Homo sapiens: one gene and its partners. The protein of the gene in region 2 purifies or fractionates together with the protein of the main gene of each other region. This does not show direct contact. Each region holds a gene or a part of one and is shown on either strand. Other genes may lie near its edges.

Region 1 (3,656 bases), on a different chromosome or scaffold from region 2:
CTCAACTTTCCAAAGTGCTGGGATTAGAGACGTGAGCCACTGCGCCCGGCCTCATCCATAATTCTTGATAAGTAGACAAGTCCATCAAAACAGCTGTACAGTCCTCATTGTTTAAATTTTTAAGTAGATGTTCAAAATTGGGAACTTTAAAAAAAGTTACGTGAATAAAGTACAGCTTTTATGTTTTGTTGTTAGCCCAGGCTGGAGTACAGTGGCGCCATCTTGGCTCACTGCAACTGCCACCTCCCGGGTCCCGGTTCAAGCAATTCTCCTGCCTCAGCCTCCTGAGTAGCTGGGATTACAAGAACATACCACCATGCCCAGCTGATTTTTGTATTTTTATTAGAGATGGGGTTTCACCATGTTGGCTAGGCTGGTCTTGAACTCTTGACCTCGTGATCTTCCCGACTCAGCCTCCAAAAGTGTTGGGATTACAGGTGTGAGCCACCGTGCCCGGCCAGCATTTATGTTTTAGTATGAAATTTAAATGCTAAAAAGTTGCTTGACAAATTCAACATCCATTCCTAATAAAAAGAGTAACAGACAGAACAAAGATTACTTAAACCCAAAAGCTAACATCATATGTCACAAACACTAGATCCTGTATTTTCTGCTATTGTGATACCGCATGACTGACTACAGCTGTTCTGACACAGATCTGGCTACTGAGCTAAGAAATGAAACCACCTCAGAAGCAGAAGCCCTGGGAAAGAAGAGGCAGATGATTACTATGTACTAAGATCACAGCCATAAACTAAACCTGGGCTGCTACAAGAGCTGAACAAATAACAGGAAAGGGGCCAGATACAAGAAAATTGTACAACTTAGCAACTTACGGGACAGCAATGATCACTTAGAAAAGATAATGAAAAGAATTAATGAAAATAATAAACATCTGGGAATTATCTAAAATGCAATGCATGTGGCCTATACAAAGAAAACAGGCCGGGTGCAGTGGCTCACACCTGTAATCCCAGCACTTTGGGAGGCCAAAGGCAGGAGGACTGCTTGAGTCCAGGAGTTCAAGAGCAGCCTGGACAACATAGTGAGAACCTGTCTCTACAAAAAATACCAAAAAGAAAAAAATTTAGCAAGGCATGTTGGTAATGCCTGTAGTCCCAGCTACTCAGGAGGCTAAGGTGGGAGAATGGCTTGAGCCTGGGAGATCAAAGCTGCAGTGAGCCATGATTGCACCACTGCACTCTAGCCTGGGCAATGAACAGAATGAGATCCTGTCTCAAAAAAAAAAAAAAAAGTAATATTCCTTCCCAACTGGTTTAATGACACTTCAGATACAATCCCAAAAAGACTGTTTTAGAAGTAAAATGGTTCAGCTCATCTAGAAGGAAGGTCCAGACTGACGAGGTTTGGGGGAACTGGTCCCCAGGGAGGAACAACTGCTGGAGAACTCACTAAAGAAAATAACGGGAGCAGCTAGGCGCAGTGGCTCACACCTGTAATCCCAGCACTTTGGGAGGCCGAGGTAGGTGGATCATCTGAGGTCAGGAGTTTGAGATGAGCCTGGCTAATGTGGTGAAAATTTTGTACTTTTGTACTAAAAATGCAAAAATTAGCTGGGTGTGGTGGCGGCGTCTCTAATCCCAGCTACTAGGGAGGCTGAGGCAGGAGAATCGCTTGAACCCGGGAGGCAGAGGTTGCAGTGAGCCGAGATTGCACCACTGCACTCTAGCCTAGGTGACAAGAACAAAACTCGGTCTCAAAAAAAAAAAAAAAAAAAAAAAATTAGCTGGGTGTGGTGTGCGCGCCTGTAATCCCAGCTACTTGGGAGGCTGAGGCAGATAACTGCTTGAACCCGGGAGGTGGAGATTGCAGTGGGCAGAGATCACGCCACTGCATTCCAGCTTGGTGACAGCGCGAGACTCTGTCTCAAAAAAAATAAAAATAAAAAAAAAAAAGAAAATGCAACCTTAAGGAAAAAGACATAAGAAAACCAATTTCTTTTCTCATCCAAAGTTATAATAAAACGTTATTCGTGGACCTTAAAGTTGCAGTTTCTGCCAGGCATGGTGGCTCACACCTATAATCCCAGCACTTTGGGAGGCTAAGGCAGGCAGATCACGGGAGGTCAGGAGTTCAAGACCAGCCTGGCCAACATGGTGAAACCCCGTCTCTAATAAAAATACAAAAATTAGCCAGGTGCGGCCGGACGCGGTGGCTCATGCCTGTAATCCCAGCACTTTGGGAGGCCATGGCGGGCGGATCACGAGGTCAGGAGATTGAGACCATCCTGGCTAACACGGTGAAACCCCATCTCTACTAAAAATACAAAAAATTAGCCGGGCGTGGTGGCGGGCGCCTGTAGTTCCAGCTACTTGGGAGGCTGAGGCAGGAGGATGGCATGAACCCGGGAGGTGGATCTTGCAGTGAGCTGATATTGCGCCACTGCACTCCAGCCTGGGTGACAGAGCGAGACTCCGTCTCAAAAAAAAAAAAAAAAAAATTAGCCAGGCGCAGTGAGGCATGCCTGCAATCCCAGCTACTCGGGAGGTTGAAGCAGGAGAATCACTTGAACCTGGGAGGCGGAGGTTGCAGTGAGCCAAGCATGTGCCACTGCACTCCAGTCTGGGTGACAGAGCAAGGCTCTGTCTCAAAAAAAAAAAAAAAAAAAAAGAAAAAAAAAAAGTCGCAGTTTCCAAGAACCTACAGACATTAAATGAGACTTGCTGTACATCAAAATACTGACACTGGGCACTTTGAGGGCACAGTTGCCAGTGCCCACTCCAACTGGGAGTCCAACAATTAAATTCCATTTAATTCCTGTTAGGGGACAGGAAGCCTTCTGTCCCCAGCTCTCCAAGTGCAACTGGGCACTGAGGTTAGGAATGTTTCTATACTGTCTATAGATTCACTGAGGCATGTGACAATCATTTTCAAAATGGAAAGATAAAGGTTTAAAAGAAACAAAGAACAGGAAAGTAGGATACACTGTTTCCCTCAAAAATCAAGAGTCACTCGTGACTCTCCACCATTTTCAAACCCTGTTTTCAAACAGACAGGTGCAGAGTGATACTGATTTACTCACAGGCAGTTCCTCAACCCCAGGGTGCTGGCACAGCTGAGATGAGCAGGATCCCCTGGACTACCTGTAACAGGAACAGGGGAAAATAAATGAGTAGTAAATCAGGGATTTATACTGATACCTTTTTTTGTTGTTGGTTTTTGGAGTTTCGCTCTTGCGCCCAGGCTAGAGTGCAATGGCGTGATCTCGGCTCACTGCAACCTCCACCTCCTGGGTTTAATTGATTCTCCTGCCTCAGCCTCCTGAGTAGCTGGAATTACAGGTGCCCACCACCATGCCCAGCTAATTTTTTTTTTTTAGTAGAGACAGGGTTTCATTCACCATGTTGGCCAGGCTGGTCTCAAACTGCCGACCTCAGGTGATCCGCCCGCCTTGGCCTCCCAAAGTGCTGGGATTACAGGCATGAGCCACCGTGCTCAGCCTTTTGTTCATTTTGATTTATTTGACTTTGCCCAGGCTGGAATGCAGTGGTACAGTCACGGCTCCCTGCAGCCTTGAACTCCTGGGCTCAAGGGATCCTTTTGCCTCAGCCTCCCAAGTAGCTGGGACTACAGGTGTGCACCATCAGGCCAGGCTAATTTTTGTAAAGACGGGGTTTCGTTTTGTTGCCTAGGCT
Region 2 (3,656 bases):
TCTGGTCTCGAACTCCTAACCTCAGGTGATCCACCCGCCTTGGCCTCCCAAAGTGCTGGGATTACAGGCGTTAGCCACCGTGCCCAGCCATAAATTTATTTTTTAAATGCATGCAGAGCTAAAAATATTCCTTTGTTTGAGTAGCGATCATTGGCAGAAGTGGGTATTTTGCCTCTTAGAACAACAAAAAAGTGTTTGACAGTCTACACCTGACTTTATATAGTCAACATTATAGGTACCCCCAAAAGCCTAAAATTAACAACTCCCGAAACCAACGGAACAACATGGAACTCCACTGTTTCTGGTTTCTCCGCCAATGCACCAGATAGCAACCCGGGGATTCTCAGTAAGAACTTCTACCCCAAAAAAAGAGGTCCAAAACAAATAAACAAACCCAAAAAGACAAGGGCAAAAGAAAGGATGTCCCCTCTTCACCACCTGGGCTCAAATGAGGGAATTCACTGGATGATGCCACCGTGAAGTCATCTTTGTTAGAATAAGGGTCTATCAAGTTGAATGATGAAAACAGTATACATTAAAAAAAGAATTCGAATAAGGGTCTAAATCACATACAATTGGTGATTTGGGTAAAGGGGGATTAGGAGAAAATGAAGCCAGTGAAGGAGAGGGATTGTGATTGGGAAATTTCTACCTTATTTACTCATGCAACAAACATGTATAAAATGCCTGCTCTGAAACATACCATGTAGTAGGACTAGGGATATTGAGACAGACGACCCAGCTTTCACACCAAGAGCTTATAGTTCAGCAGGGAATGCTGACAGGTAATTGGTTCCATGACGTCCATGCCCAGGTGCTATGGGAGGTCAGTGAAAGAAGGGAGGAGAGAAGGGGGAGTGGTGACCCCTCACATTCTAAGAAAACAGATTCTCTAGCTCATACCAGAAACAGCTGCTTGACATAGCCATTGATGGAAGAAATGTGAGTCTGATGAGGTCTTCAAGTGTGCTCTTACCTCCACAGTGATGAAAACCTCCTCCAAATGATTTGCAAAGTTTTCCATCTCAATTATCTGCTTTTCCAATTTGTACATGTTTTTGTGAATTTCATCCTATCCAACAGAGGATCACAAAGAAGGTATTAATGTTACATCTTCTCTCACTCTTGTAGAAGGCGTTTTAGATTTATTCCCTGCGTATGTACTTGAGATACCAAAGCAATATCAAGACAGAGAAGAACCAAGGACACCTATTTACCTTGGCACTTTCCAGTGCTTCATTGAGTGGGATCACTTCATGCTCCTTATGTTCATCAAAAACCTTCTGAAAAGCTCTTATTGGAGTCTTACAAGTGACACAGAAGACATCAGCAGCTTCTTCTTCATCCTCTTCCTCGGGGATGACATAGCATTCATACTCCTCGCTGGCACGGCCGTGTGTGTACCTATAGGCTTCCCGCAAGTCCTGGCACTGGCCTGCTGAGCCCCACCCTCCGAAGCCCAGGTCCTCGGCCTCCGCTGCCTCTCCACTAAGTCTCCAGTCTCTCTGCTCCCTGGCTGGGTCTCTCCTCTTCATCATATAAGGAGGATATTCTGAAACCCCTGTTCTGGGTATGTTTTCATCAACAAACTCATCCCCTAATTCATGATCATCTTCAAGTCCATATAAGTGGACAAGTTCATCCACTTCCTCTTGAAGGTCTCTTTGAGCCTTACCATCCCCTGCTCCTCTTGACTCATTGGCCATTTCAGCTTGGACTACTTTCCTCATCCTAGTGTTCTCTTCTGGAAAGAGGTGCAGTCTGTCTTCAGAGTCATACAGGTCCATGTGGTAAAAGTGGAAATCCTTGGGAGTAGACCTGTCCAGCCCCAGTTCCTCCCCCGATTCCTCCTCCATTGTAACTCTGGAAGTCCTCAGAAGCACCTTTATATAAGAAAGATCCTTCCTGGACACTTAATAGTGAATATCTGGGCCCTGGAACACAAAAGGAGGAGGAAAATCATTTCTGGAGAAGGGCATTGCAGTAGATGATCATTAGATTGGGCTCTACTCATATAAAACTTTAAAAAAATTATCTGTGTAGTTCAGTCGTGGTTTCACTTTGAACCATCTTTAAAAAATTTGTTTTCTATGGGAGGATGGGCTTTCTAAGGTTAAAAGAGACAAAAGAAATTACAAAAGAAATGTCTAATAGATATGTCCAACAAAATACTTCCCTCATACATTAAAAAAAAAACTTAAAAGGCAAAATAATGGGAAGCATCTCAGGCAATTATTATTATTATTATTATTAATTTATTTTTGAGATGGAGTCTCACTCTGTCACCCAGGCTAGAGTGCAGTGGCATGATCTCGGCTGACTGCAGCCTTTGCCTCCAGGGTGCAAGCAATTCTTGTGCCTCCACCTCCCAACTAGCTGGGATTACAGGTATGTGCCACCACACCCAGCTTATTTTTGTATTTTTGGTAGAGACGGGTTTTCACTATGTTGGAACTCCTGACCTCAGGTGATTCACCCACCTCAGCCTCCCAAAGTGCTGGAATTACAGGCATGAACCACTGCGCCCAGTCTATTATTTTTAAATTGTATAAATTAATTGAAAAAGTGGCATCTCAATAGATGAATGTGCACAGACAATTCACAAAACAATTACTTTTGTATATGATAGCACCTGCACAAAAACATTTGAAAAAAACTGTACTTAAAAGTAACAGAACAGGCCTGGCGTGGTGGCTCATGCCCATAATCCCAGTACTTTGGGAGGCTGAGGCAGATGGATTGCTTGAGCTCAGGAGTTCGAGATCGTCCTGGGCAACATGGCAAGACCCTGTCTCTACCAAAAATACAAAAAAAAAAAAAAATGCCAGGCATAGTGGTGTGCACGTGTGGTCCCAGCTACTTGGGAGGCTGAGGTGGGAGGATCACTTGAGCCTTGAGGGGTGGTGGTTGCAGTGAGCCTAAATCACACCACTGCGCTCCAGCCTGGGTGACAGAGCAGGACCCTGTCTCAAAAAAAAAAAAAAAAAAAAAAAGTGACAGAACAAATAAGTAGATGCTGTTTTGCCTTTTCAGTTAGAAAATATTTAAAAATATCAAAAGTGATACCCGCAGCTGGATAAGGGGACAGTGAAGTGAGCACTCTCATATGCTGCCGGCTAGAATGTAAACTGGCCCCACTTTTCTGAAGAGCAAGCTTGGCAACCTGGGTCAGGAACCTTAAAGATGTTCACACTTTCAGCAGGGTGTGGTGACTCATGCCTGTAATCCCAGCACTTTGGGAGGGCAAGGCAGGAGGATTGCTTGAGGCCAGGAGTTTGAGACCAGCCTAGGCAACACAGTGAAACCCCATGTCTACAAAAAATTTAAGCATTTGCCAGGTGTGGTGGTGCATGCCTGTAGTCCCAGCTACTAGGGAGGCTGAGGCAGTGAGCCATGATTGCGCCAGTGTACTCCAGCCTGGGCGACAGAGCAAGACTCTGTCTAAAAAAAAAAAAAAAGTGTTCATACTCTCTAGCCTGTTCATACTCTCTCTAACCTAGTAATCCTCTTCTGGAACCTTGAGGAAAAATCCCAAATACAAGGAAAAAAATTATTTTATGTAAAAATGCCCACTACAGAATTTTTTTAAGTAGCAAAAACTTTTGTTTTTGAAAAGGTTTAATGATTAGGAGAAGGGCTAAGTAAACTCGGGGATG
Region 3 (2,378 bases), on a different chromosome or scaffold from region 2:
CTCTGAACTAGTATAATTAGCAGCACATATTTTCTTACTCGTACATAAAAAATTCATGGTATTTTTTTCTTTTTTATTGAGACAGGGTCTCACTCTATCACCCAGGCTGGAGTGAAGTGATGCCATCTCAACTCACTGCAACCTCCACCTGCCGACCTCAAGTGATCCTCCTACCTCAGCCTCCCAAGTAGCCAGGACTATAGGTGTGCACCACTGTGCCTGGCTAAGTTTTGTAATTCTTTCTTTCTTTCTTTATTGGAGACGGAGTCCTGCACTGTCACCGGGGCTGGAATGCAGTGGCACGATCTTGGCTCACTGCAACCTCGGCCTCCCGGGTTCAGGCGATTCTCCTGCCTCAGCCTCCCAAGTAGCTGGGATTACAGGCACCCACCACCACGCCCAGCTAATTTTTTGTATTTTTAGTAGAGACGGGGTTTCACCATGTTGGTCAGGCTGGTCTCGAACTCCTGATCTCAGATGATCCACCCTCCTCGACCTCCCAAAGTGCTGGGATTACAGGCGTGGGCCACTGCGCCTGGCCAAGTTTTGTATTTCTTGTAGAGATGGGGTTTCGCCATGTTGCCCACCCAGATCTTGAACTCCTGGGCTCAAGCGAGCTACCTGCCTCAGCCTCCCAAAGTGCTAGGATTACAAACATGAGCTGCCACGCCTGGCCGCATCTTTCAATCAATGGTATTAATCCTGTACAGATGAGAAGACTGATGCTCAGGGTGGTAGAACTGGGATTGGAACCTGGATGAGACAGACTACCAAAAATGGCTGCAGATTCCTCCCCTCCCTGTACACACACACCTCTGCTATGTGGCTTTGGCACTTCTCCTGGCAAGAGCTCGACTTTTTCAATCTCCATTGGCCTCAATCTGGACTGGCTTTACAACTTGCTTTAACCAACAGAAGGTGGCAAAAGCAATGTTGTAGGAGTTCTGGGTGAGTCTAGGCCTCGGGGGACCTTGCATCTTCCACCTCTACCTGCTTGGGGGTGCCCTGGGGCTAGTCTAGCCTTCCAAAGGGTGAGAGGCCACGTGGAGCAGAGATGAGCCATCCCAGGTGAGGGCCCAGACCGGCGCCGTCCAATATGACCTCATGTGGCTATTTACATTTAAATTATTAAACAAGGCCAGGCATGGTGGCTCACGCCTGTAATCCCGGCACTTTGGGAGGCCAGGGTGGGCGGATCACCTGAGGTCAGGAGTTCGAGACCAGCCTGGCCAACATGGCAAAACCCCATGTCTAATAAAAAAAATACAAAAATTAGCCAGGTGTGGTGGCACGTGCCTGTAATCCCAGCTACTGGGGACGCTGAGACAGGAGAATCACTTGAACCCAGGAGGCAAAGGTTGCAGTGAGCTGAGATTGCACCACTGCACTCCGGCCTGGGCGATAGAGCAAGACTCCATCTCAAATAAATAAATAAATTTAAGTTAATTAAACAAAATTTAATCCCAAAGTGTTGGGATTACAGGCGTGAGCCACGGCGTCCAGCCAGCAGCCACCTTTCAAGTGCTCAGTAGCTCTGCCAGGCTAGTGGCTACTGTGTTGGACAGCAGAAACCTAGAACATTTCCATCGCTGCAGAAAGTTCTGTTGGACAGTGCTGCAGAGGTAAGCAGCCGAGAGCCAGACACGTGGGTGAGGCCATCTAACTGCCTCTTGCCCCAGCTAAGTTACTAAGTGATGACCCCAAAGCAAGGTCAATAGAAGAACTGCTCAGCTGCACTTAACCCCTAAATTGCTTACCCACAGAATTATGCATCAATAAACTGGTTGTTTCGAGCCATTTTGGGGCAAGTAAGTTTGGGGGTGGTTTGTTCTGCAGCAAAGCCCATCTGAAATACAAGGTCTGAGAGCCTCCCTGCCTTTCCTGGACAGAAGTATGGTGCTGCTCAATCCTCCGGAAGCTCATGGTCTTGGCCATTAGCCTGGCCACAGTGTCTCCAACCTTCAGAACCACACTGAAGTCCTAAACCCTCCCCGATGCTTTAGGCACTCCAGGTACCCACTCTCTGGCAGAAGCCACATTGGCTAGGGAGTGCCCACCATCAAGGCAGGACTGATATGACGACAACGTGGGAGGTGGCCAGGGAAATGTGCTCCAAAGGGTGAGCAGCCAGGGAGGGCCCAGAAGAGGCACCAAGGGCTGAGGAAAGCAGGGGCAGGTATGGGCATGAGCCTCAGCATTTCCTGCCCACCAGGGAACTCTTGAGAGCCACCAATGGGCCAACAGATAGAAAGATGGTGCTGCCTTGTGGGCGACTGCGGGCCCGCTGCCCACCTCCCACCTGGACAACTGCAACAGCCCCTCCCTCGTCTCCCAGCTCCCTCAGGGCTGCCTGCAATCCTCTCCCACTCCGTACACAG

Evidence for each region.
Region 1: the proteins of FSD2 (region 2) and LETM1 purify together in Homo sapiens (co-immunoprecipitation; 2 studies listed by BioGRID and IntAct, with this or other methods). This does not show direct contact.
Region 3: the proteins of FSD2 (region 2) and SLC27A4 purify together in Homo sapiens (co-immunoprecipitation; 2 studies listed by BioGRID and IntAct, with this or other methods). This does not show direct contact.

The regions. Positions count from the first base shown.
Region 1 is NC_000004.12:1,846,106-1,849,761, forward strand, and holds part of LETM1 (mitochondrial proton/calcium exchanger protein precursor), read right to left. Parts: intron 3,105-3,656; coding exon 3,044-3,104; intron 1-3,043. UniProt on the Homo sapiens protein: Plays an important role in maintenance of mitochondrial morphology and in mediating either calcium or potassium/proton antiport. Mediates proton-dependent calcium efflux from mitochondrion.
Region 2 is NC_000015.10:82,785,535-82,789,190, forward strand, and holds part of FSD2 (fibronectin type III and SPRY domain-containing protein 2), read right to left. Parts: intron 1,935-3,656; 5' UTR 1,857-1,934; coding exon 1,218-1,856; intron 1,073-1,217; coding exon 977-1,072; intron 1-976.
Region 3 is NC_000009.12:128,357,505-128,359,882, reverse strand, and holds part of SLC27A4 (long-chain fatty acid transport protein 4), read right to left. Parts: intron 1-2,378. UniProt on the Homo sapiens protein: Mediates the levels of long-chain fatty acids (LCFA) in the cell by facilitating their transport across cell membranes. Appears to be the principal fatty acid transporter in small intestinal enterocytes.